4 separate regions of the Homo sapiens genome follow, and all the other regions are linked to region 4. A link means that fine-mapping ties the variant in region 4 to the plasma level of a protein whose gene starts in the linked region. Region 4 holds a variant in brackets. A gene starts in each other region. All regions are shown on their forward strands.

The links. PIP is the chance, under the fine-mapping model, that this variant and not a neighbour inherited with it causes the effect. The UK Biobank Pharma Proteomics Project read protein levels with antibody pairs (Olink). The fine-mapping took linkage between variants from a reference panel, not from the people measured, so its PIPs are less certain.
Region 1: F12 starts here. The variant in region 4 is fine-mapped to the plasma level of the F12 protein (UK Biobank, PIP above 0.99).
Region 2: CHAD starts here. The variant in region 4 is fine-mapped to the plasma level of the CHAD protein (UK Biobank, PIP above 0.99).
Region 3: it holds the start of EGFLAM, and the variant in region 4 is fine-mapped to the plasma level of the EGFLAM protein (UK Biobank, PIP above 0.99).

What each region holds. Positions count from the first base shown.
Region 1 is chr5:177,407,702-177,415,541 of GRCh38, forward strand. F12 (coagulation factor XII) reads right to left here and starts at 1,863. Exons shown (of 14, transcript NM_000505.4): 1 at 1,770-1,863; 2 at 1,345-1,402. The coding sequence starts at 1,826.
Region 2 is chr17:50,468,446-50,470,499 of GRCh38, forward strand. It overlaps CHAD (chondroadherin), which reads right to left and starts at 435. Exons shown (of 4, transcript NM_001267.3): 1 at 1-435. The coding sequence starts at 368. All of the region lies in intron 10 of ACSF2 (acyl-CoA synthetase family member 2), which reads left to right. RefSeq lists enhancers at 1-350, 351-1,308.
Region 3 is chr5:38,255,062-38,263,051 of GRCh38, forward strand. EGFLAM (EGF like, fibronectin type III and laminin G domains) reads left to right here and starts at 3,498. Exons shown (of 22, transcript NM_152403.4): 1 at 3,498-3,790. The coding sequence starts at 3,694. It overlaps LOC124900966 (a long non-coding RNA gene), which reads right to left and starts at 3,605. Exons shown (of 2, transcript XR_007058739.1): 1 at 3,533-3,605; 2 at 2,036-2,570. RefSeq lists an enhancer at 2,128-2,629.
Region 4 is chr19:54,249,180-54,256,973 of GRCh38, forward strand. LILRB5 (leukocyte immunoglobulin like receptor B5) reads right to left here. Exons shown (of 13, transcript NM_001081442.3): 2 at 7,782-7,794; 3 at 7,310-7,594; 4 at 6,864-7,163; 5 at 6,107-6,403; 6 at 5,556-5,858; 7 at 5,186-5,236; 8 at 4,839-4,889; 9 at 3,692-3,808; 10 at 3,307-3,370; 11 at 3,187-3,224; 12 at 2,875-2,927; 13 at 242-1,753. The coding sequence ends at 1,607. Among named protein-coding and RNA genes, the nearest start is that of LILRB5, 4.2 kb to the right of the region's middle. RefSeq lists an enhancer at 2,315-2,932. The variant C/T (reference allele first, on the strand shown) is at 6,529.

The DNA.
Region 1 (7,840 bases), not on the chromosome of region 4:
TTGAACCCAGGAGGCGGAGGTTGCAATGAGCCAAGATCGCGCCATTGCACTCTAGCCTAGGGGACAGAGCGAGACTCCATCTCAAAAAAAAAAAAAGATGCAGATGGGATGGACGGACAGAGAGGAGGGGGACCTTAGGCAGGGGATTAGGCAAGGATAGGGCACCAAGTTTGGGTAAGGCAAGAGAGAGGAGAAACTTTTGGGTGTGGGGTGAAGAGAGGAGGCTGAGGGAGTCCAGGGTTGGAATGTGCTGGGCCTCAACGCCATGCTTAGAGACTCAACCCCACCAAGTCAGGCCCACCAGGGTAAGGTCCATCTGGTTCACAGGCCCTGCTATGTGCCACACTCTAGGTAAATTTTTTTTTTTTTTTTGAGACGGAGTCTTGCTGTGTTGCCCAAGCTGGAGTGCAATGGTGTGATCTTCGTTCACTGCAACCTTCACCTCCCAGGTTCAAGCAATTCTTCTGCCTCAGCCTCCCGAGTAGCTGGGACTACTGGCGCATGCCACCATGCCTGGCTAATTTTTGTACTTTTAGTAGAGACAGCATTTCACCATGTTGGCCAGGCTGGTCTCGAACTCCTGACCTCATGATCCACCGACCTTGGCCTCCCAAAGTGCTGGGATTACAGGCATGAGCCACCATGCCTGGCATGTAGGTAATTTAGTGTCTGGAAGAATGAAAGCAATGGGGAGCTATGGCAGAGCTTGAGGAAGGGGGAAATGGCAGGTACCCTTCATCTAAAAGGTAGTTTCATAATAAAAGCTAATATTTGTAAAGCATTTCCATGCACCAGGTGATGGGCTGAATACCTCACATGGGTTTCCCTTCTCAACAACCCTAAGAGGTTTACTGTTATCAACCTGGTTTCACAGAAGGGGAAATTGAAGCTTGGAGAACTCAAATCCCTCGCCCAGAGTCACCCAGCTCATAAGTGATAAAGCTGGGCTTCAGAGGCATTCAGATGCCAGAGACAAGCTCTTGATCCTTCCTTGCCCATTGAAGGCCCTGGCCTCTGTGTGGCATGAATGATGCCCATGAGACGTACTGGGGAAAGGAAAAGAAGGGGAGAAGCTGGGGAAACTGAGGAAGGCTGGCAGGAGCCCAGGTGTGATGGCGCCAGCAGCACATATCTCAAGCACCTGCTCCGAGCCAGGCTCGTGGGCACTTAGACACAGCCCATACCCTGCCCTCAAGGATCACACAGCTCACGATCACTCTAGTGCCCATGGGCATAAGACCTAGCACCAGGTAGGCACTAGACTAGACTGCCCTGAGACTGCACACACTGCACCATACACATCCCCACCCAAGGGTTCCCGGGAGGAGGAGCCAGGCCACTTACCGACTGTGTGCTCTTCAGCTTTGTACTTATGCTCCTTGGGGGCTTCCCAAGGTGGAATCTACAAGGGAGAGAAGAAGGCAGGGAACTGACTATAAGTCATAGCCTGCCACCGATCTGTTGCTAGTCTGCAGCTTCCTCTCACAGCCCAGAAATGCAGAGATTTCTTCCCAAGACCCAAACCCTTTCTACCTCCCCCCGTTGTCTTCTTAAGGCCCATCTCCCCCAGAAATGCAGGCTGTGCCCTTGTATCCACCCAGTCTGGTTGTCTGTCTCCTCTGCCTGGGCCTTCCGGGCTGGCCTCACCTTTCCACATAGGCCTCCTAGTCACCTGGACCCACAGGTCATGAGCAGAGGCCATGGCTCATGGCTGTGATAGCGACCCCCCAGAACAATCCTGGGACAATCCTGGTTCCCACAGCACTCACCGAAAGTGTTGACTCCAAGCTCACCAGCAGGAACCCCAGGAGCAGCAGAGCCCTCATGGCATCCGTCCGTTGGTCCAGCTGCCTATCCAGGAGTCCAGATCAATAGGACTGGCCAAAGGTCTTGGAAATAGAGATTGGTCAAGCTGCCCTCCTGAGCCTGGTGGGGCACAGGCTGTTTGTGGAAAGCCAAGTGGAGCAACTTCCTTGGTCACCCCTTGAGGGCCGGAAAGTTGGGAGTTTGTGGGTGGGGGTGAAATGAAGAGCTGGGCTCCTCCTCTCTTTTCTAGATAGTGGGACTGGAAGCAGAAGAAGGGACATTCTTATGCTCTGGGTCCTGTGGAGATCAGGAGGTTAAGGAGATCAAAGATCATGGGGATCTTGGAGTCCACTGTGAAGTGTGTTCATTTTCTATTGTCATGTAACAAACTACCATAAACTCAGCATCTTACAACAATACCCACTTTTAATTTTCTTTTTTTTTTTTTTTTTTTTGAGACGGAGTCTCGCTCTGTCGCCCAGGCTGGAGTGCAGTGGCGCAATCTCCGCTCACTGCAAGCTCCGCCTCCCGGGTTCACGCCATTCTCCTGCCTCAGCCTCCCGAGTAGCTGGGACTACAGGAGCCCACCACCACGCCCAGCTAATTTTTTGTCTTTTTAGTAGAGACGGGGTTTCACCATGTTAGCCAGGATGGTCTCGATCTCCTGACCTCGTGATCCACCCGCCTCGGCCTCCCAAAGTGCTGGGATTACAGGCCTGAGCCACTGCACCGGGCCATGTGTCGCCTTTTAAGAACTCACCTGACTAGGTCAGGCCCACCAAAGCCATTCTCCTTTTTTTTTTTTTTTTTGAGACAGAGTCTGGCTCTGTCACCCAGGCTGGAGTGCAGTGGCACGATCTTGGCTCACTGCAAGCTACGCCTCCCGGGTTCACGCCATTCTCCTGCCTCAGCCTCCTGGGTAGCTGGGAATACAGGCACCCGCCACCACGCCCAGCTAATTTTTTGTATTTTTAGTAGAGATGGGGTTTCACTGTGTTAGCCAGGATGGTCTCGATCTCCTGACCTCGTGATCTGCCCGCCTTGGCCTCCCAAAGTGCTGGGATTACAGGTATGAGCCACCATGCCTGGCCCTGCCATTCTCCTTATTTTAAGGTCAAACAATTTGGGACTTAAATTACATGTGCAAAATTCTTTCACAGAAGCATCTACATTCATGTTTGACAGAATAACTGGGAGGTGTGCAAACACCAGGGGTAGAGATCTTGGGGCCATCTTAGCATTCTACCAACCACAGGAAGTGAGGCAAGAAAGCAAATGATTTAATGAGAAAAGTGCTAAACCAAGGGGCACTAAGATGTGCAGCTGGAACATGAGAAGAAGACGGGGTGCACATGTGCTGCCCAGCATCTGTCCTGGTTCGGTAATGACACTTTGATTTTTCCTTTAGCAACGACTCCTCTCTTACTTCTTCCATGGGCTCTAGTGCTGCCAACTCTACCCTCAGAGCTAGGGCTAGAGATGTGGCCTAGGTCTGGTCAATCAGAGCATGACATCTCTAATCCACAGTGATTGGTTCAGAGATAAGCATATACACAATTTAGGCCAATTAAAGTGCTAGCTTGGGACTTTTGCCAGAACTTTTGGGAAAGCAAAAAAGTTGCACTGGGGTTACTAAGCACAGAGCATGTGGGTCTGAACACATTGATGATCACCTTTGTCACTCTCTAGGGAGGGCCTGTTTGAGAATGAAGCCTACACATAGGAAAAGCAAAGCAAACAGGGCAGGAAGGATGGAAAGATGCTGTGGTAGACAGCCTCAAAGACAGCCCCCATTGATCCTCACCACCTAGGATTCATGCCCTTGTATGGTGTCTTCCCACATTGAGTTAGGGCTGTTCTGTGTGTCCATCAGAATATGACAGAAGTGGCTGGGTGTGGTGGCTCACACCTGTAATCCCAGCACTTTGGGATGCCAAGGCAGGCAGATCACTCTAGGTCAGGAGTTCAAGACCGGCCTGGCCAACGTGTTGGCCAAACCCCATCTCTATGAAAAATACAAAAATTAGCCGGGCGTAGTGGCGTGTGCCTGTAATCCCAGCTACCCGTGAGGCTGAGGCAGGAGAATCGCTTGAACCCAGGAAGTGGAGGTTGTAGTGAGCAGAGATTGTGCCATTGCACTCCAGCCTGGGCGACAGGGACTGTCTCAAAAAAAAAAAAAATATGGCAGAAGTGAGGGTGTTGGACTTCCAAGCCCAGGTCATAAAAGACATTGCAGTTTCTGCCTCGGTCTCTTAGGTTGCTCACTCTGGAGGAAGCCAGCCACTGTGTTGTGAGGACACACATGCAGCCCTGCAGAGAAGCCCATGTAGGGAGAAAGGAAAGCACCCTGCTGACAGCCAGTGCCAATTGGACAGCCACATGAATAAGCTGCCTTGGAAGTGGATACTGCAGCCCTCGCTGACATTTGGCTTGCAATCTTATGAAAGACCTCAAGGCAAAACTGACCATCAGAAACTGTGATAAATCATCATTAAATGTTGTTGCTTTAAGCCACAAGTTAGGGTGATTTGTTACACGACATTTGAGAACTAGTACTGATGGATTGATTTCTCATGACTTTGAGAGCCTACATCCTAAAACTAGAAGTATCCTTAAGACTTGGTCAGTTATGGCTAGGCACAGTGGCTCACGCCTGTAATCCCAACACTCTGGGAGGCTGGGGATCACTTGAGGATCACTTGAGCCCAGGAGTTCCAGACTGATGTAGGCAACATAGTGAGATCCCATCTCTCCAAAAAAATTTAACATTAGCCAGGCATGGTGGCGCGTGCCTGTAGTTCCGGCTACTTGTGAGTCTGAGGCAGGAGGATTGCTTGAGCCCAGAGGTCCAAAATGCTGTGAGCCGTGATTGTGCCACTGCACTCCAGTCTGGGAAGCAGACTGAGACTGTATCTCCAAAAAAAAAAAAAAATAGACTTCTCAGTTATATGAGCCAATAAAACCAATTTGAGTGGACTTCTGTCACTTTCAGTTATACAAAGTCCTAAGTTATACAAAGTAATTTATGGGAAATGAAGACTGAGTGTAGCAATTTATTAATTCTGCTGGAAGAGAGGCAGGCTGTGGAAGACTTCTTGGAACAGAAACACAGAAAGAGGAGGGCAGGAGAGGAGGGGCACCTTTCCAACCACTGGTTTCAAAGGTAACTGGTTTCAAAGTCATTGACGTGACAGCTGTTAACTCCATGATGAAAGTGAAACTATTAGATATATTGACGAGTCATTAAAGCGAAACTACCTTTGTCACCTTTTTTGTTGTTTCAAAGAGACTCGGTCTTATTAAGTTGCCCAGGCTAGCCTGGAACTTCTGGGCGCAAGTGATCCTCTCGCTTCATCCTCCTGAATAGCTGGGATTACAGGTTCATGCCATCATGCCTGGCTCTGTCAGTTCTTGATTGCTCCTGAGTATAGACCCTGGCCCTAAGGCCACTCCCACATTGGCTCCTTCCTCTTGGGGAGAAGGCAGCTGTTCCTCTACATGGAAGGGGCCTTTTGAACAGGTCTTCGCCACAAGTAGGGGTTTGCAGGCAGAGTGAGTAATACAACTGCACAGAAGCCTGAATGCAGCGTGTCAAATGGGGAATGTGGTGAGCATAAGGTGCCTTGTAGGGAGTGTGAGATGAGGTGTCAGGTGGACATTAATGGTCATTTGGATGTTCAACATCCATCTCCCTTCCTCTTCCTCTCCCAGTTTCATTTTGTGATCACCCCTCCCCAGCTGTGGTGGTGAAAGGGTACTTTATTATTATTTTTATTTAGTTATTTATTTGAGATGGAGTCTCGCGCTGTCGCCCAAACTGGACTGCCATGGTGCGATCTCGGCTCACTACAACCTCCACCTCCCAGGTTCAAGTGATTCTCCTGCCTCAGCCTCCCAAGTAGCTGCCATTACAGGCCCACGCCACCATGCCCGGCTAATTTTTTGTCTCCTTAGTAGAGACCAGGGCTTCACCATGTTGGCCAGGTTGGTCTCGAACTCCTGACCTCATGATCTGCCCACCTCGGCCTCCCGAAGTGCTGGAATTACAGGCGTGAGCCACCACACCCGGCTGAAAGGGTACTTTCTAGAGACCATCTCCACTATGGAAGCCTAATGGACCAGACCAACCTCTCCCTACCATAGTATAGCCAGAGGGACCTAAACTCAGCCAATAGTGTTTTCTCCCAGGGCTCTGAATCCTGATCAAGCCACACAAGGATGGCAGGAAAAGCTGGAGGTCTGGCATTGCACCACCTGTGCCCTGACCAAATCATCCCGGCTACATGGCATTAAGTCAGGATGCCTTCCAAAAACCAAGCATATGCAGTAGGGCAATTCGAATTCATCATCCCATGTCACCAGATGTCTGGAGCAGCAGGACTCCAGGAACAGTGCTTTCAGTGGTTCAACAATGTCATCAAGAACCCAAGTTCTTTCTTTTTTTGTTTGTCTTCTGTGTGCAGACCTTCAGGCTGCCTGCCCTCATGGTCACAAGATGGCTGTCACAGCTCCAGGAATCACACTTCAACTCAATTATGTTCAAGCAAAGAAGAGGCACCTTCCCTTCCACTAGCTCCTTCTTAGGAATGAGGAACCCTCCCTCAAATCTCAAGCAGACCTCTCCTCATGCTTTCTTAGCTAGAACAGGCTCACATGACATCCCTAAGCCATGTTTGGCAAGGAAAAGGGGATCCCCATCACTGGCCTAAACCTATTAACCCTGGATCTGGGTCAGAGGCATGTGAGGTAAAGTGGCCACTGGAACAGAACTGGGACTCTGCAAACAGGGAAGAGCGGTGGCATGGATATTAGGTGGACAACTTCCGTGTCTGCTCAAGGGAAATCACTGTACTTCCTGCTTCCTAGTCTTCCAGTGGCTCTTAATTCCTGCACATTTCCAAGCCTATTCCTTCGAGCTGATGCCGTGAACTCCCGAAGACCTTCTCACAAAGTAAATTCCCTTTTGTTGAAGCAGCTAGAGTCATTTTCTGTTGCTTGCAACCAAGAGCTCTCTCTTCCTCATGCTCCCAGCCTACTTAGCCACCTAGTTCTGTTCATTCCACTATTTAAATATTTTTCTTTTTTTTCTTTTTTGAGGCAGGGTGTCAGTCTGTTGCTCAGGCTAGAGTGCAGTGACGTGATCATGGCTCACTGCAGCCTTAGCATCCCAGGCTCTAAGCAATCCTCCCACCTCAGCCTCCTAAGTAGCTGGGATACAGACGTGCAGCACCACACCCAGCTAATTTTTTAATTTTTTGTAGAGGTGAGGTGTCACTGTGTTCCCCAGGTTGGTCTCAAACTCCTGGGCTCAAGCTATCTCCTCAACCTCAGCTTCCCAAAGTGCTGAGATTACAGGTATGAGCCACCGCACCAGGCTACATAAATATTTCTCAAATCTCTCCATCTCTCTCAATTTCTACTGCCCCTTCTTTGACTTCCAGAAAATTCAAGGTAGCTACAGCTGTGAAACATAATTTGAGAGCCTGTGATGGATGTCTATCATTTCCTGTTTACCATTCATTCTCCCTGCTTCTAGAAATGGCCCTCATTGTTTCTTTGGGGAATCGCTCCTCCCCACCCTGCGTCAATATACATAAAATAAAGCCTACCCTATCCCTTGGCTGAGGGTGGAGTGGGCATTTGATCTAGACCTGGCCAATCGGAACACCACCTCTGTCTTCAGCGATTGGTTCAAATGAACACCTGAATTAGGTGGGCGTGGTGGTGCACGCCTGTGGTCCCAGCTACCTAGGAGGCTGAGGTGGGATGATGGCTTGAGCCTAGAAGGCAGAGGTTGCAGTGAGCCAAGATCGCACCACTGCACTCTAGCCTGGACGACAGAGCCAGACTCTATCTCAAAAGAAAAAAAAAAAGAACACCTAACCCACATCGAACCAGTGAGAGGCAGCCCCAGGATTTTTGCTGGAATTATAAAGCTAGAGGCCTTCTCTTTCCATGGAGGTTGTCACATTCCTAACAAATGAGCCTGGAGCTGCTGGCAGCCATCTTTAACATCTCAGAGGGAGAACCTACC
Region 2 (2,054 bases), not on the chromosome of region 4:
GTCAGGTCGTCGAAGGCACCTGCGCGCAGCACGCGGATGTCGTTATGGGACAGGTACAAGTAGATAAGTTGCTTGAGGCCGCGGAAGGCACCGGCGGCCACCTCGCGGATCTGGCAGTGCTGCAGGTGCAATGACACGAGGTTCGGCATGGCCCGGAACGAATTGGCAGCCAGCACCGGGAAGTTGTTGCGCTGTAGGTTGAGCAGCTTGGTCTTCTCTGACACCTTGGGGATCTTCTGCAGCCCCACCTTGTCGCAGATGACGTGCTGCAGGTCGCTGTGGCAGTGGCAGTTCTGGGGGCAGGCGGCCAGCGCCGGCAGCAGACCAGCCAGGAGGCCGAGGCTGAGCAAGAGCATTGGGCGGACCATGGCTGGGACGCCTGGGGCCGGGGCTGGGGGCAGCAGCGGCGGCGGGGCGCGGGCAGCGGCGAGTCCTAGGCGCTCGGGTCTGCCGCCCTCTTTATACGGTGGCCCTGACCGCAGCCGGCAGCCGAGCCAGCTCCTACGTGGAGCATCGAGGCCACTGGGCTTAACTCGCTCGCGCCCAGAGATGCGCCCCCGCCCTCCACGGGGAAGGGGGCGGGGCCGTTCCCCCAGCCGGCTACCGTGCATGAGGGGGTGGGACCGTGGCCCCCGAGCCCCGAGCCCTGAGCCCCGGCTGTAGCCCCCCGCTCTCCTATGGTGCTCCTCTGCCTACCGCCTTTCCCGGGGCTTTTCTGGGAAGGGGGAATAGTTATGTCTGGAGCCCCGAGTTTACATCGGAGAGAGGGAGGCGTTCCCTCAACTTATTTGTTTGCTCAGGTTTGAGCCTCCACGCCGCGCCATCCACACACGCTCGGCCGGGTGCCCTGGATGCGAGGCGGGAGGAAGCGGGGCCGGACAGCTGGATGCGTCTCCCTGCGGTGGGCCAGCTGCCTGCGCTTTAAAGGGGCGCTTGTGCGGCGCCTGCCGAGCGTGAGAGCCGCCCCGGCGTCGGTCTCCCACTTCAGACTCGACGCGCCGAAGCTGGCCCTGGGTAGACCCGAGCTCCTTCCCCACCCTCGGGCGCGCCCCCACCCCTCTCTTCCAACCCCGCTTGCGTTTCTGTCGCCGGCGCCCTCATCCCCTTTTTCCACCGCTGAAGGCTAAGCAGAGAAGTGGGAAGTGGGGGAGAGTGGCCCACAGGAATGGCAAACACACCTGGAAACCACAGGCCACAAGCACAGTCGCACCATCCCCCCTCCTTCATCGCCCCGAAATATCTCCATCCCTCATCCCCAACCCTAGTGGTCAGGACCCGCCCCTGAGGGGTCTCAGGGTGGCGGCTGAGTGGCGCCGAGGTGTACTTGGCAGATGCCACATTCGGGCGGTGGCCCCAGGACTGTGAGGAGGGGTGCGGGAGGGGGTGGGGCAGGTCGAGGGACCAGCCCTGGACGGCTCTGGCTGCCAGACCCTAAGTTCTGTGGGCAGTCCCGCCCCAGCCCGCCAGATTTCTGTGTGCCCACTTGCCAGCCACGATGTCCGGATTCCTGTGGAAAGGGGAGGGTGAGCAGGCAGGGTCACAGCTCTGGCCTCAGGGTGAGCTCCAAGCTGCCTGGCACAGGATATTGTCTGTGATGAGGGGTGGAAGGAGAAACCAGAACCCACATTGAACCAAACCCCAGCCGTGCCAGAGCCAGAGCAGCTGATATGGGGGAAGCTTGGTGCAGGGAGGAGGATGGATGAGATCTGGTATCCGTTGATTAAAGGGGACCTAGGATACGGGGTAACTAGCCTCTCTTCCCTTACCCAGTACCCTCGTGTTGGGGCCTGGTTTCCAGGGCCTGCCCTTTTCCCAAACCTCTCTGCCCCTTGCCTCTAGGATAGGAGGGTCATACTTGGCCTAGACCATTCCTTGATGGTATTTAGGCTTCTCCAAGGCTGGCTTCTGGTTTTTCTGTTGCTCAGGCTTTCCAACCACTGGAAATGGGGGAGGTGGGGTGGGGGTACCACTGGTTTTTAAAATCACTGCTTAGGTTGTTTTTTTATTTTGATGGAAATAAATTCACGGGAAACTCTCCAGAGCTTGGGGGACGC
Region 3 (7,990 bases), not on the chromosome of region 4:
ACTTATTACATATTCAGTGTCATTCATGCCTGCTGTTTATAATAATTGGAAACAACAGAAGAAAGAACAAATAAATTACATATCACATGTAGAATATTATTCAGCAGTTAGTAAGAAGGAGGCAGATCTGTATCTGCTGATTTGGAAGGATCATCAGGTTAAGAAGTACGTAGAAGATGCTCTTGGTTGCGTTAAATATATGTGTATATAATTAGCTTGTCCATTCATAGACCATCTCTAGAAGGATATCCAAGAAACTGGTGATGGTAGAAGGAAGAAAAGGAAACTTATTTTTCACTATACACTCTGCCTGATCTGCATTTCAAATTTTACATGTAGATATAACCAATTTAGAAAAATAAATCAAAAGATGATTCTTGGCTGCTGCCTCTTTGTCACTCTCATTTAGAGTCTTAATAAACATTCTATAATTGATAAGTTTGCCTTTACTTTCTTCTACCAGCCTCCAAATCTATTCCATGCAGCAAAGGTCAGATTCCTCTTCCATGATAATGAGCAAAGTAGGCAGGTCACTCTTCTGCTGGTGACCTTATTAATTGAGTTTAGACCTCCAGTGAATTTGAACAGATTTTTTTTTTTTTAATGAAACATTCAAAGCCTCTTGGCCCCTCTTTAGTTCCCCTCCTCTCAGAAAGCAGGAAGAGAGTGAAAGGCAAGTGTTCTATTTGTCTTTAGTCAGATTTACAAATGCCATAGTTGGTTTTCAAACTGGAAGGAGAGGGAATCTTCCAGTTCCCTTGGAGGATGCGATTTGAACTGCAAAGGAAGGGAATAAGTTTAATGTAACATGTGCTCTAGATTTGAAGCAGATTTTGTGAAATAAGGTCTTATCTCAATGGCCTGATGATCCAGAGTGTTTGCAGGCCCTCAGAGGTAAAAATACAACAGTATAATCTAATGTTGTTTTTCCCCAAGGAAAAAACAAGAGGGGTCTCTGAAGAAACCAAGCCTATTTCCCAAATCGCCTATGGTCATCTGCAAAAAAATGGAAGGGAGGCCCAGGGCCAGGGATGCCGAGGTGGTGTGGGCACATGAGGAGGACATTGGCAAGAAGGCTGCCCAGGCTTGCGAAATTTGCAGTGGACAATTTGCACAGGGTCTGTTAAAAGGCACATGCAGAGTAAAGGTAGCTTAGATTAGATGATGCTGTTTTATCAGCTATTAAAGAGAAAGCAAAACCTGGAATTTACTGATTGTTTCGTCCAGCCCATTCATTTTTACCAAGGCACACTATACGCAGAGCCTAGGATTAAACACCCACATCTCCCGATCCTCTCAGTCCACTGCTGTGTTTACTTTCCACATTGTTCTCTCAAAAGCCTGAAAGCTGGAATCAGACCCCTTGGATTCAAGCGCTGCATGGGAGCTGCATGACCTTGGGCAAGTTTCTTAACCTTCCCATGCTTCAGGTTCCTCACCTGTAAAAGGCGAGAATAGTAATGACAGTATCTTCCTGGTATGGTTGTTATTGGGATTAAAATGCACTTCAAAGAAGGTCTGGTACATAGGAGACCTTAAATAAATGGTAGCCATAATATCAACGATTATTATTACTTCCAGTTTCAGCATCACAGAGAATCATTTTTAAGTAGGAAAGCCTGCATGGGAGGCATCTGCATTGCAACACTCGCTTGGTTCTGGGTGCCACATTAAGTCCGAGATAAGAAATCACTTTCGCATAAAGAAAGGCCTCTAACAACTTCTCAGCTGGCGCTGGAGGAGCTCTCTCACACAGGTGGAGTTCAAAGGGAGGTGGCACGACCCGACACCAATGCTGAAAGCAGACTCCTGCGTGGAGTGGAGGCATGGCCTAGATGACCTTTAAAATGCTAAAAAGTCTATGATTTTGAGACCTTTGAGACTAGCAGCCTTGGGGGCAGTCACTTTGCTTAGCTTAGTGGCCGGCTTTATGGTCACCTTGGACGTGAAGAGCATAGTTCTGTCTGAACTTTGCTCCAGTTCTATGTAAGAGGACAAGCTCTGGTGTCACAGCTAAAACTTCCAAATACTCAAGTTGGAGGGGACTTTGAATTTATTTGTGAACAGACAATTGCACACTTGAAAATGCCAACACATAAGGGAACACACTCAGCTTTGCTAACTAACAAGATTGAGCTCATTACAAACTCTCCAGCCAGGGGATATTTCATTCTTAAAAGAGGAGTAGAAATCCTGTGTGTGTGTGTTTGGGGGGCTGGGGAGGGGAGAAGAATATATCAGTCAACATTGTTTCCTCCCGCGCTCCCAAACATAGGCTAACTGTGAAGAGCCAGGACGCCCACCGAGTCCTGGCAGCGTTGCAAGGTGGGGAGGGGGCGGGCGCGGTCCTGTCGCTAGTGACTGCAGATTTCCTCTGCGGGGCACTTCCTACGGCCTTTGATCTTTCCCCAGGAACTGCCGAGGGCCGCGTTTGCCTCTAAGTTTATTCCCTCTTGGTTTATTTATTGTATCTGCTTTCTCTTCTCGCTGGTTTGGAGGTCAGAACGCCAGTATGCAACGGGACTTGTGTCCCAGGCAGGGTCTCCCCTCTCCAGGCACTACCGCGAAATCTGGCAAAAGGTACATTTTACTGAGTCCTAGGGCAGCAAATTCAGCGGCGGAGAAAGAGTCTTTCTCCATTCAGGAGACAACCCAGGAAGCCCGATCCCGGGATCAGAGGCCAGGACCCCGCCCCGGCCCCCTGCCCCAGGCCCAGCTGGGCGCCGCCCAGGGGCTTTTCTCGGTCCGCCTGGGGGCTCGAGCTCGCGTCCCTCCCTAAGACGCCAGGCTTAACTTGGAGTTTCATCTCCTCCCCAGGAGGGTCTCAAGTTGCCTTCCTCTGCCGGGAAGGGCCCCCACTCCCCCGCTCCAGGCCCTAATCTCCACCCGGCGTCCCAGTCTGAGCGGCCTGGCCTCAGCTCTCCATCTGCGAGCCTTAAATCCCATTTATCTTCTTAGCGCCTCAGACCCGGACGGTCCCGCCTCTCTTCCTCTCACCCCCACCCCACTTGCAAATCACAGACCCCCGTCTACCCCTCGCATCCCCCAAGTGCGCTGGACCAACTACAGCAACCTTTGAGGTGTTAGAAAAAGTCGCCTAGAGGGGCGCGGCAGGAGGAGGGCCCAGGTGGGGTGGAGGGGGGGCGCCCCAAGATTTCAGGGTGAGGACCGCGGAGGGTCCTGGACCCGCAGTCGCCTAACTCCTGCCCTGCGTCTCCAGTGCTTGAAGTCGGTCCCTCCCAGGTCCCCAATCTAGGTCACCAGCGGGGAAGGGCTGCGCTGGGGGTCGCTAGAGAGGGTGAGGGGCGGGCTGTCTGCTTCCGAGGTGGGCGAGGAGTGAAGGTTTCAGGGCCTGTCCCTCTCACTTCCACTCGATTGTAATTTCATCCCCGGGCCGGTCGAGCCTCCCTCCCTCCCGCGGCCAGCCCTTCCCTCCCAGTCGGCCTCCTTCGTCGCCCCCGCCCCCGCGAAAAGCCCTGCAGCTTGCAGCCGGCTTCACTCGCGCACGCCGACCTCCCGGCTGCAGTCCTACCTCTTGGAACTACCCGTGTTTCCGGGCCCAGCCCTCGCAGCCCCCCACCTCCTCGCCCCGGCCCGGGGATCCGTTGGGGCCGCGTCCCCCACGCGCCCCCGGAGACGCCCTTTCCGTGTGCGCCCGGGACTTGGTGAAACTTTGCAGGCGCCGGCTGCGAAATGGATTTAATCCGAGGCGTCTTGCTCCGGCTCCTGCTCCTGGCTTCCAGCCTCGGACCCGGCGCGGTGTCGCTCCGAGCGGCCATCCGAAAACCAGGTAATGCGCTCCTCCGCCCAGAGCCACCACGCCCCGAGCGCCCCTGCTGGGCTCCGGGGCGAGGACACAGAGCGGGCAGCGCACCGCCTCCCTCTCCCCGACCAACGTCTGCTTAACTCGCTTCAGCTCTGCCAGGAGCTGAGAAAAGACGCAAACCTCGCCCTCCCCCGAGCCCGGGCGGCGCTAGGGATATTTATTTATTAAAAGAATGATCAATTTTCCAGACATAGTAGATAGAGGTGGTGGTCCCCGTGTTTGACCGCAGAGAGCTGACAGTTGGGACAGCGATCGTGCTGTCTCAATTACAGAGGATGGCAACCATGCAGAGGAGTCAAACCAGCCCCTCCTGCGTCTCCAAACATTTTACTCAATTCATATTGTCCAGAGCCCAGCCATTTCCTGTTAAGTGTCTGAAGGGTTGCCTGGAGCCCCCTCTGCCCATCTCGGGTCCTGCCCACGCGTTGTGCAGGGATGTGGACTCTGCTCTTAGCATCCTCTTCCACTCTGGGGCCATTTGTTCAGAAGGAAGCACCCAGTGGGTTAATTTTACCGTGTTTTGAACTCCTGTCTTTGCTTTGGCATTTAAACAAAGAAATGTACGTTGTAACCTGTTATAAGGGACTGGGAATTGGGGGAGAACTTGAAACCATAATAACGTGTGTTTCCTCTAGCTGCATATAGGTAAAAAGTCTTCGTTTATTTTGGTCTACTTTGATTTGGCCTATGCTGTGAGATTATTCAAAGTAGAACATTCTGAACAATGAAGTTCTAAACATTGTTTCCCAAATAACGATTTTTATTACTTTTTGCTGGGACCATATTTAGAATTCTGAAAAATCTGTTTTGTCTTAACTTACTTTGTAAGGGAGGTTGTCTTATGGGATTAATTATATCTTATGAACAATGGAAAACAATATTACTTTTATTTGAATGCAGTCTGCAAAACCTCACAGAAAGTGCAGTTTGTCTTCACAAACGTTTCTGTAAGAAAGAGGCAAAGCTAGGAAAATTTATCAGAGGGCAGAGAAAATCGTCTTAGCGGGATCCCATGTGAATGCTTAAATATTTTCGCATTGAAACTCTCTATCTGGAAATATGACTTGTTGCATTTCGGCTCTGGAAGCGTCCTCAGTCTTTGCACTGTGTCTCTTATTACCAGCACTTGTTACCTGCCTTGAAATCTAAGGTCATTATCATAATCTACACCATATTTAAATTATGAGCCACTCCATTTATGAGCTCTTCAATTCATTTTGGAGATAATAGCTTCAGTCCAAGGTAATATCACATTAAATTGTTTCTCTTCCTGCACGCACACATACATATACCTTCAAGGATTTCAGTGAAGGGCTTCTTTCTAACTTTCCTCCTTAAGATAACCACATCACGATCAATTGCATTTTGCAGATTTATTCACATGAAATCATCTATTAATTGTCACAATTTTTAAACAAAGCATAGTTATATCTATAGTTTTAAAGCATGAACAGTGTATGCAATGCTTTTTAAAGGATATATTTTAATCCATTTAAGGGGAATTTTTAAAAAGCATTTTATAAAAACCTGTTGTATAAAACTGCTCATGTGGGTCATCATATTTTCCTTCTTATTTTTTGGAGTTCTTCTCCTAAAAAGATTTTCTACCTGGTTCATTCAGGGTCTCATTCTGATATTCATGCCAGGAATATGCCATGCTGGCCTCTTTGGTTTTATTTGAAGCATAGATAGGGTTTTGATAGTGGAAACACCACCTCTTAAATACTTTGGCATATTAATTACATCAAATTTGAGATAGAAGTGTTTAGACTAGGTTCAACCTAGAAGAGTTTTATTTTTATTACTTTATAATTTTATCCAGACACTAGCTTTCAGGTTGGAAAGCTTCTCAGATTAAAATGACAGCTACTTCATAACTTCAGGGGAAATTTCCCTCCTGGGCTCATTTACATCCCTTGGAAAGACTAGTTTTTGATCCGGAAAATTGGTCCAGATTAAAAAACTGAATGTGCCCTGCTTGGCTCTGATGTGAGCAGCAACTAGCTAATTTATAATCTTCCCCAGACACTAGCAAATCCTGCTAGTATCCATATGGGAGTTTCTTTGTACCTTGTTTCCTCAACAGAAATTGGTACATAGACAGTACTTTGAAGGTATCGTGGCCACGGTGCAGGCATACTGGAGCGGTTCTGTCTTATTTGGATGACCCTCCCTATCTCCTCATACTCCTAAATCTACTTTTGATAAGTATAGCATTGTTGGAGAAGTCTTGGATTCAAAATCAACCTGGAAATTCCCCATCCGCACCTACCTCTGGTGAGAAAAAACTGAGTAGCAGCTTCAAGTCTGAGTCTAGTTTGGGTTCAACACAAGCAACCTTTCTCTTCACCCCAAGATAGCTCATCTTTTGACATTGAACATTAATAAAGAAACCTCTGCATTTGCCAAGACTTACAAGAAATGACAGTTTTCAAATTAAGTGAAATTAAATCATAATAACTAACACTAAGTGCTTGCTACACTGTTCTAAGAACTGGATGCACAGTGATTTATTTAATCAACCCAATAGCCCTGGGAGATGGGGACTATTATTATCACTGTTTTACTGAAGGAGAAATTGTGGCTTAGAGAGGTTAAATATCTCATCCAAGGTCACACAACTAGTAAGCGGTGGAATGGAAATTTAAACTCTGATATTCAGGACCAGAAACTGAGCTCAGAACACTGTGTTTGCAGAGGTGTGTAGCATGTCTTGTAGGGTGTCTTCCTGGAGGCTGAAGAGTGGAGCTCCCGTGGGTCAGATATTGGAGCCTAGGTGGAGGCTGCTGTTTTGTGTGGGGATCCTGCGTTGCTCTTAAACATTTGTAAATGGGATCTGCCCATGCCTGCTAAGACAACAGAGTGCATATGATACTGAAAGAATTTTGGAAGCTACTGTCTACTGGCCTCATTTATAAGAATCACAGGGTGTGGCCTTATGGGGTGATGATGAACCACTTGCTTCTCTTGTTGAACTCCTGGGGATTAAGGCTGGTGAGGGTCAGAGGGCCCACTACAGTACCTGAGGGTAGAAAAAGGGGCCTCTGAAGAATGGGAGGGTTTAGGGCCCTGTCCTTTCCCCAGACCTTCACGGTGTGGACACACCACTCATTGGATAGCCTTCATTCCTTTTCAGACTACAAATTAGAATCATAGGCCTGGAAAGAAGTGAAAAGTCCTCATTTTGCAATGAGGTTGAGGGTGACTCAGTAACTTGCCCCAGTTAACATCAGAAGCTGAACTGGAACTGGCACCTGGACCTCCCACCCTCCTGAGTGGTCTCTAGCCTAGTGCTGGTCCCATCACCTGAGTCTCACCAGAAAGTGCGGGAGGACTGCCGTGCTTCTGTGGTGGGGCAGGAAGAAGGGAGGGGAAATCCAGACAACTGCGGGAACCAGCATGCAACAAGTCACTTAATTCCCGCAGGCATATTGCTAACTCTTGTCCTTATTATCATTTTAAAGTCAGATTTATTGAGGTATAATTTATATGCAATAAATTTCATCAAGTCTACAGTTTGATGAGCCCTAACAAACATACACAGTAATGTAATCACCGCCGGAATAGAAATATATAGAACATTTCCATCATCCTTAAATATTACCTTGTGTCCCTTTGTAGAAAAATGACTCCCTCCCAGCCCCTGGTAATCACTGATCTAACTTCTATCCCTGTAGTTTTGCCTCTTCCAGAATGTCATATTTTGTGTCCACCCTCTGTCGCATAATGCTTTTAAGATCCATCCATGTTTTTGCATATATTGGAAGTTTGTTCCTTTCTTATTGTTGAGTAGTGGTGCGTTGGATGGACCATGGAATTCCAGTTTGTTTAACCATTTGCTAGTTGGTGGACTTTTAAGTTGTTTTCAGTTTTAGGCTATTATGAATAAAGTTCCTAGACACGTGCACGTAGAAGTCTTTGGAAGATATATGTTTCCATTTCTCTTGATAAACAGAAGGAGTGGGATCACTGCATCACATGGCAGGTATATGTTGAGCTGGATAAGAAATCACCAAACTGTTTTCCAAAGTGGCTGTACCATCTTACATTCATACAATGTACGAATGTTCTAGCTGCTCCTAATCCTCTACAACACTTGGTAGAGTTTTTTTTTGGTTTTGTTTTAGTGATTCTATTCTAATAAGCATGTAATAGTATGTCATC
Region 4 (7,794 bases):
AATAAATAAATAAATAAATAAAAACAAAAAACAAACCAAAAAATCAAACACAAAGTGCTATGGTTGACAATCCACACTCACTAATGAGGATTATCATGGTCAAAAGGAGTACTAGGAATGTGTGAGACCCATCTTAGGTTAAACATGTTTAAATATTTGAGAAATACAGAGGACATTGAATTTCTGAGGCAGGATTATATGATTTTTTTTTCTACAGCAGAATGAATATTATATAAAATAATTAGAAGACATAGAAAAATCAGATTTAATGAACACAATCAAAATACTCATTCCTTCGAGGACAAGACACAGTGAAGCACCAATTATGAAATTAGAAAACAAAACAGAATTTTTTTTAGAGTGTAGCATAGAAACTTTATAAATTGCAATTTAAAGTACTTGGGAGAATAGAATGAGGAGGGGGAATGTCCTATCTATTGTAGGCGTCAGAAAGAAGGAAGAGAAAACGATGTCTAGCAATAGCCCAAGAGGTGAGTAGCTGAACATTTTATAGAGATGAGGAGAGACTAACTAAGGACTAGGGCGCATCCCTTTAAAATTGAAATGTATGGGCTGGACGTGGTGGCTCACGCCTGTAAGCCCAGCACTTTGGGAGGCTGAGGCGGGCGGATCACCTGAGGTCGGGAGTTTGAGACCAGCCTGACCAACATGGAGAAACCCTGTCTCTACTAAAAATACAAAAATTAGCCGGGCGTGGTGGCAGGTGCCTGTAGTCCCAGTTACTCGGGAGACTGAGGCAGGAGAATCGCTTGAACCCGGGAGGCAGAGGTTGCAGTGAGCCGAGATCACTCCACTGTACTCCAGCCTGGTGATAGAGCGAGACTCCGTCTCAAAAAACAAAACAAAACAAAACAAAAACCCTCACACAAAAACCAAGACAAATCCCCTTGACACAAGTTTATCTGTCTAACAAACCTGCACATGTATCCCTGAACTTAAAAGTGAAAAAAATAAAGGCAATATGTGTCAGATTTGTGGTGGTGTCTGCTGTTTCACCCCCATATGGAAATGTGTGCCTGAACCCCGCTTTTTTCCTTGCTTATTGTGGCTAGGATTTGTGAATGTAATTCACATTCTCAAGAATGAGCTTTTTTGGCTTCATCGAGTTTTCACGTAGCCCTCATTAGTAACTCCTCTTGTTATTTTTGTCCCCTTCCTCACACCTTCATTTGGAATAATTTGTTGTTCTTTTTCTAAATTCTTTCTGTCATTGCCAAGGTCATTAATTACGTAGGTTTTATTCTTTTCTAATTCATTCGCTCATTTGTAGTTTTCCGATTTCATCATTTAATGTGTAATATTTACATTATCATTCCAAATTTATACCATGCTCTAATTTCTGTTTCAGTTTTCTCAGCTCATTGATTTATTGAGAAGTCTGTGGCTTCATTTCAAAAATGCAAGGATATTAGTCATCTTTGACTGCAGAATCTAGTGAGTCCCAGAGTTCCCAGGATGTCCTGGTGGTCTTTGTTAGGGGTCCAGGCTGGCTGGGGTTCATTGGTGTCCACTGGGGGCAGCTCCTGTGCCTTCTGGAGTCTCTGAGTCTCCTTCTGTTGAGTATGAGATCTGGGTCCCCCGTGGGCTAGTGGATGGCCAGGGGGGCGTAGATGCTGGGTTCAGCTGGAGGTTCCCTTTCCTGGGATGGAGGAGGCTCAGTTGCCTCCCGTCTGAGGGTCAAGCTGTGCAGCTGGGCGTAGGTCACATCCTGGGGGGCTTCAGATGCAGCAGCCTGCAGCGGGGGAGAGTGAGAGGGAAGGAACGTGGTGGGGGTGGGGGAGGCCTGGGGGCCTGGAGAGGAAAGGACTCTCTCAGTGTCCATCTGTCTGTCCTCTTCTGCCTGTCTGTCCTTTGTGTCCAGGAATTCCCCAGACAGTGGGGAAGGAGGAGAGGCCATTTCTCTCCTAGGTCTGGAGTGTTTCACCGGGGCATACGTCACTGCCTGGGGGTCTTCATCGTGTGGGCTCTGCTGGAGAGAGACAGTGGTGGGGGGTGTCCTTGAGTCCCCCTGACCTCCTGGAGTCAATTTTCCTCACTGTTCCCGGGGTGATCCGATTACATCCCTTTCCTGATGGAATCTCAGGGACGCCCTAAGGCCGTGGAGGGTCTGGCCGCTCCCTCCCTGTGGTTCTGGCCTCTGCTCCTCACTCTGACCTTGCCCATTTGGCTGCAGCCTCACGGGCCTTCCCGCAAGAGCTCGCTGCTGCCTCGGGGCCTTTGCACGGCTGTTTCCTCTGCCTGCAGGGGCTCGTCCATCAGAGGATCGTGTGCCCCACTCTGTCCAGGCTTCTCAGATGACAGCTGAGCAGACAGCCCTCCCCTTCCATTCAGACTGGCCCCACTGCCCCACACTCTCTGCCCTTTCCCTGGTTTATGTTCCTTACAGCACGTTGCACTCCTGGACACGATGCATTTATTTGCATTTTGTCTCCCACCATGAGGTGAGCTCAGGAGGCGGGGGCGGCTTTGCTCCCTGCTGTGTCTGCAGCTCCCATGGGGAGCCCCATCCACAGTGAGCTCCCTGGGAACACTCGCTGGTTGAATGAATGAAGGGGAGCCTGGGGGACCGGGTCGGTTCATTTATTCCTCATCCTCCTGAGGCCTGGGGAGAGCTCTAACAACCAGACGGCCAAACAGAGGATGAGGAGCAGGAAGGGGACCCGGGAGGAGGCCCACGAGGTCCCAGGACAGCAGAAGAGAGTGAGGTCGCAGCAGGCGGGAGGCAGCGTGCTGGACAAGGAGGGGTCCACCGTGACGATGCTGAGAGCCGGGGGAAGGAGGACAGAGAAGTCCTGCTGGATTAGATCTGGCACCAGGAGGCCTTTGGTGCCCGGGACAGGGGCGGGGCCTCACCGGAGCATCCATCTCCACCCCGTCCTTGGGCTGTGTGTCCTTCACGGCAGCATCTGCTGGGCCAGAGCAAGGGGTTCATCTCCTGGGAAGGTTCTCTGAGACTTCTCCGTCCTGCCAGCCCTTGCCCTGTTCCCACTAGGGTGGCTGAGATCCAGGGAGGGACTGTGATGTCCCTGAGGTCCCACAGTGTGGGTTCAGACCGCCTCCCCCTTGGCCCCAGACCCCCCCCAGCCTGTGCTCCTGCCCCCATTGCTACAGAAACTTTGGTGCTCCCTTGCCCACCCCAGGTGCCCTCCGCTTCTAGTCACTCACTGAGAATTTCCTCCTGGATGTCAGCAACTGGGCTGGCCCTGGGGGAGGACACGGGAGTGTGAGGGGCAGTGAGGGGGCTGTGCGGGTGGATGGGAGTCTTGGGTCTTCATGCAGAATTACCTCTTCTGCAGGCCCTGGTCCTTGGGCTCTGGCCCCGCAGCCCCTGCAGGACGGTAGAAATGGGCTGGACAGAGATGGACAGAGGGTCAGGCCTGGGAGAATTCGAACCAGCTGCCCTGCACACACAACTCGAGCGGAAAGAAGGAAACCTGGAGGCCCACTGGCACTGAGGCTTTAAATACGTCGTAAGTTTAAAGTAAAATCAGAAGAATCAAGCACTTCCACACATGCTCACATTTATTCTCTTCTTTCTCGATCGATTTTTCACCTGGGAATTTCTGGAGCAGTTTTTCTAAGCTGACTTTCCTTTGTGTTTGGTTTCCCTCTGGCTGGTGCCCCGAGCCCACCCTCGGTCGGCCCACGGGTTCCCCCATTCCCTACTCACCCGATGTCCTGTGTTTGCTCTGATGCCGATGTCGGAGGAGGAGGAAGAGGAGGAGGAACAGCAGCAGGACGAAGGCCACTGAGACCCCAGTCACAACCCCCAGGTGCCTTCCCAGACCTTGAGCGTGATGACGTTGGGAATGGGGATGACGTCATTGATGTGAGCACCTTCTGTGTGCAGGCGCGAGCTAGGTCTTTCCTTCATGAGCTCCAACCCTCACAGCAGTTGTGCAACATGGGATTGCCAACCCCCCAATTCACAGAGGAGCAAACTGAGGCTCAGAGAGGGGAATCGCCTGCCCCAGGCTCCTCAGCCTGGAAGAAGCAGGTCTGGGAAGGGAACCAGGGACTTTGTGTTTTCCCCAGCTGTCCTCCTGCTGCCCCACCAGGTGCACACCTGTTTCCTATTTGACAGGAGGGGCCTGTCCTAGTGTCTCCATCTGGGGCTGGTGTCCTTCTTAGGATCCTCCCTTCCCCAGCACAGCAGGGCCTGGGAGAGGGAGTGGGTTGTGCAGGACGGACCCTGCATTGCTCTCACTCCCAGCTCAGCCAGGTCCGTTTCCCACTCTGCCAAGTTCCCATACTCCCATGCAGAACCTGTCTGGATAGGGGCTCTGTGTGTATCTGGGAAGGGCTGAGGGTAGCAGGAGGACGGTGCCCCTGCCGAGCTGTGTACAGGGCCAGGTCCCATGATTTTGCTTACGCCTCGCAGCAGTTCTGTGAGCTGGATGGGACTGAGCCAGTTTACAGCTGCTGAAACTGAGTCAGAGTAGAAAGTTGACCTGCCTGGGCCCACGGTGGGATGCGGCAGAGCTGGGAAGTGAACCCAGGAGTCTGACCCGCAGCCCTTGTTCTCTGCACCTGAGCGGAGCCCCGGAGCTGCAGGGAAAGAGCCTGAATGCCCCAAACCACGGCCCTGCTCCCCTCCCCTGCCCCAGGTCACCGTCACTGCTGCCGGTGGGACAGGACAGTCCCCTGAAGAATCCCATCAATGCAGGCCTCTCTCCTTTACACTTGGAGAAACTGAGGCCCAGGCAGGGGAAGGGCTTGTGCACTTCACCATCTCCAGAGGAGCCTGAACCTACGACAGAACCCACCCCTGCCTCCCCTGGTCTCCGCCCACCTCCCACTCAGAGCCCCTCACTCACCACTCTGGGGATCCAACCCCGTGGGGGTGAGGGGCTGGTCCTCAGGGCCTGCTGGGTCAGGACGGGGAGGTGAGGGCTGGGGCTGCCCTGCTCCCCACATCAGCCCGGCTGCTCCTCCCCCAGGCTGGGCCCCAACACCCAACATCTCTCTCTGCCTCGACGCCCGCCCCCTCACCGGCCCAGCCTCAGAGCCCCGGGGAGCCTGTGGCCCCTCCTCTGGCTCTGCCCAGCTCCCTGGAGGGAAGCTCCCGCTTGAGTCTTTGAGGGGAATAGGATCCTCGGGGAGACTCAGGGCTGCCTGGGGGGAGACCACGCTCCCTCCGAGCCCAGAGGCCTCAGTGACTCACCAGGTGTGGGGGTGGAGCCTGTAGGTGAGAGGCTGGGATCCCCAGAGGGTCCTGGGAATAAGCACAGAAAGGGAGCGAGGCGCTTTGGTGCTGAGTGAGGAAACCCGTCCCTCCACCTGCCCGTGGCTTCTCTGGAAACTTTCTTCTGCTCACCTTTCACCATTTGCATCCCAGGAGATGGGGCCAAGTGTGGGCATGCCTGGGGAGCCCCCGTTGTCCTCCTCCCCTCTGAGGGGTGAGTCTCCCTCTGGCTGAGCCCCCCTCAAACCCTCCCCCCCGCACCGCGACTCCATCCCAGCCCAGAGCTCTCCTGGGGGCAGGGCCTGAGCTGAGCCTTTGAGCTTGGACAGGACAGGGTCAGGGCCCTCACCTGAGACCACGAGCTCCTGGGGGTAACTAGGGCTGGACAGCAGGTAGGGGTAGGACCTGATTGCGCTGTAGCATCGGTAGGTTCCACCCTGGGCTGAGGTCACAGGACTCATGGAGAATTCAGCCTGGTGTCTATAAGACTGGTACTTTGACTTTAGACACAGCGGGGGATGGGCTGCCCCCTCCTTGGTCAAAAAGAAAGTGTCTATCTGATGCCATGACTGACACAGCAGGGTCACGTTCTCTCCTGAGGCCACCTTGGGGCCCGGCTGCACCGAGAGGGCGGGTATGTCAGGGATCAGTCCTGGAGAGAAGAAGGATGGGTGAGGGGCTGCCCCACCTTGCTCTGAGCTGAGACCTCCCCAGGCCTCTCTAGGAGCCTCTGTCTCTGTTTTCTCTGAGTCTTCCCCTCCCCACCCATCCCCTGTCTCTGTCTGTCTCTCCCTCCCTTGGGACCACCCCCCCGCCTCATCCCGGCCATCACTAATTGGATTCCCCCGGCAGGACCTGTGCAGAGCCTGGGTCCCTGACTGAACCCGCTGGGCTCCTCACCTGCGATCAGGATGTCCAGGGGGTCGCTGGGGGCCGACCACCTAGGGGAGAGGTTGTGTGCACCGTAGCATCTGTACTGGCCCCCGTGGGAGCGGCTCACAGGGCCCAGGGTGAAGTTGGCCTGGGAGAGCCCAGCCTGGGGCTGCTGGCCAGAGCCCTGGACGAGGTCATGTTCCCCCTCCTTGTACAGAACGAATATGTCATAGCCGACATCAGAGCGACACTGCAGGGTCAGGCTGCCTCCGCGGGCCACGACAGAGCCCTGCGGGATCAGGAGGGAGGGCTTCCTAGACACGCCTGGAGGGAAAGAGGAATTGGGACTTGGAAGGCTGGTTCCTCCCCCGCCCCTTCCTTCTCCCGTCCTGGCGTCCTGGCCCTGCAGGTCTCACTGTCTCTCACGCTCTGTGTCTCGGATCCCGGGG[C/T]CTCCTTCTCACCTGGGTCTGTCTTGGAGTAGTTCCAGACCGATAGTGTCTCTCTGACTCCTGGCCACTGTCTGTCTGGTCTGTCCTCTCCTCATTGAGGGACAGGAAATTGCAGCAAATACACCCATTGCCTTCCTGAGTCGACCCCTTCCAGGTGAGGGTGACTCAGGCTCCTGTTTCCCCATCTGAGCCTCCCCGTGGGGTCTTCCTCACGCCTTCAGCCCATCCATCAACACATCCTTCTGGGGTCCTTGCCATGATCAGTCATCAACCAAACTCCCAACAACCTATCTGGTTCCCCAAAATTATATAAAGAAGTGTGGTGGCTTTTTCACCTGGGACCAGAATCTCCAGGAGGTCACTGGGGTTCGACCACACCTGAGGGTTTTTCCTGTAATAGTAATAGCATCTGAACCTCCACCTGCAGCTGGGGGTCACGGGACCCACAGGGAACAGGGCCTGGGATGGCCCTTTGGGGAGCTTCTGTGAGTACAGGGTCCTGGGGAGCTTCTGTTCTTCCTCAACAAGAACAAACGTGAGAAGTCCGTCCAGTGTATCACACTGGAGGGTCACATTTCCTCCTGAGGCCACCACAGGACTCGGCAGGGCTAAAAGAGTGGGTTCTGCATAGAATCCTAGCAGAGAAGGAGGCACGTCTTAAGTGGGGCTCCGACCTCCCACATCATCCCCAGGGCTGGGCTGTGAGAGGTAGACGTCCCTAAGAGCCGACCCTCTTCCTGAGGGCAGAGCCTGGGGCTGGGACCCCTGAGTGTCCTCTCACCTGTCGCCACCAGCTCCAGGGGGTCACTGGGCTCTGACCAGCCTGCAGGGGTCTCATAGTAGCAGCGGTATCGCCCTGCACTGTCATACACCGTGGATGGAATGTGGAACTTGGCCTTGGCTCCAGGCTCCAGTGGGTTCTGTCTCTTCCGGGCCCATGGGAGTCCCTCCTTATCCAGACGGTACTCCTCAGTCTCCAGGGGCCCCTGACACCAGAGGGTCACGGGCTTCCCCCGAGCTATCACAGAGGCTGGCTCAGCCCAGAGGGTGGGTTTGGGGAGGGTGCCTAGAATGGAATCAGAGGCTGGATCCCAAGACATCCCCATCCCTCAGATTCCAGCTCTCAGCCCCAGGACCCTCCAGACGTCCCCATCAGTCAGCCCAGAACAGCTATCTCCACCCCCAGCTGCCCGGGGTTGGGCCCTTGTCCCCAGTGAGAAGAAGGGACCTGGGACAGCTGGGGACAGACTCACCTGCCTGCACGCA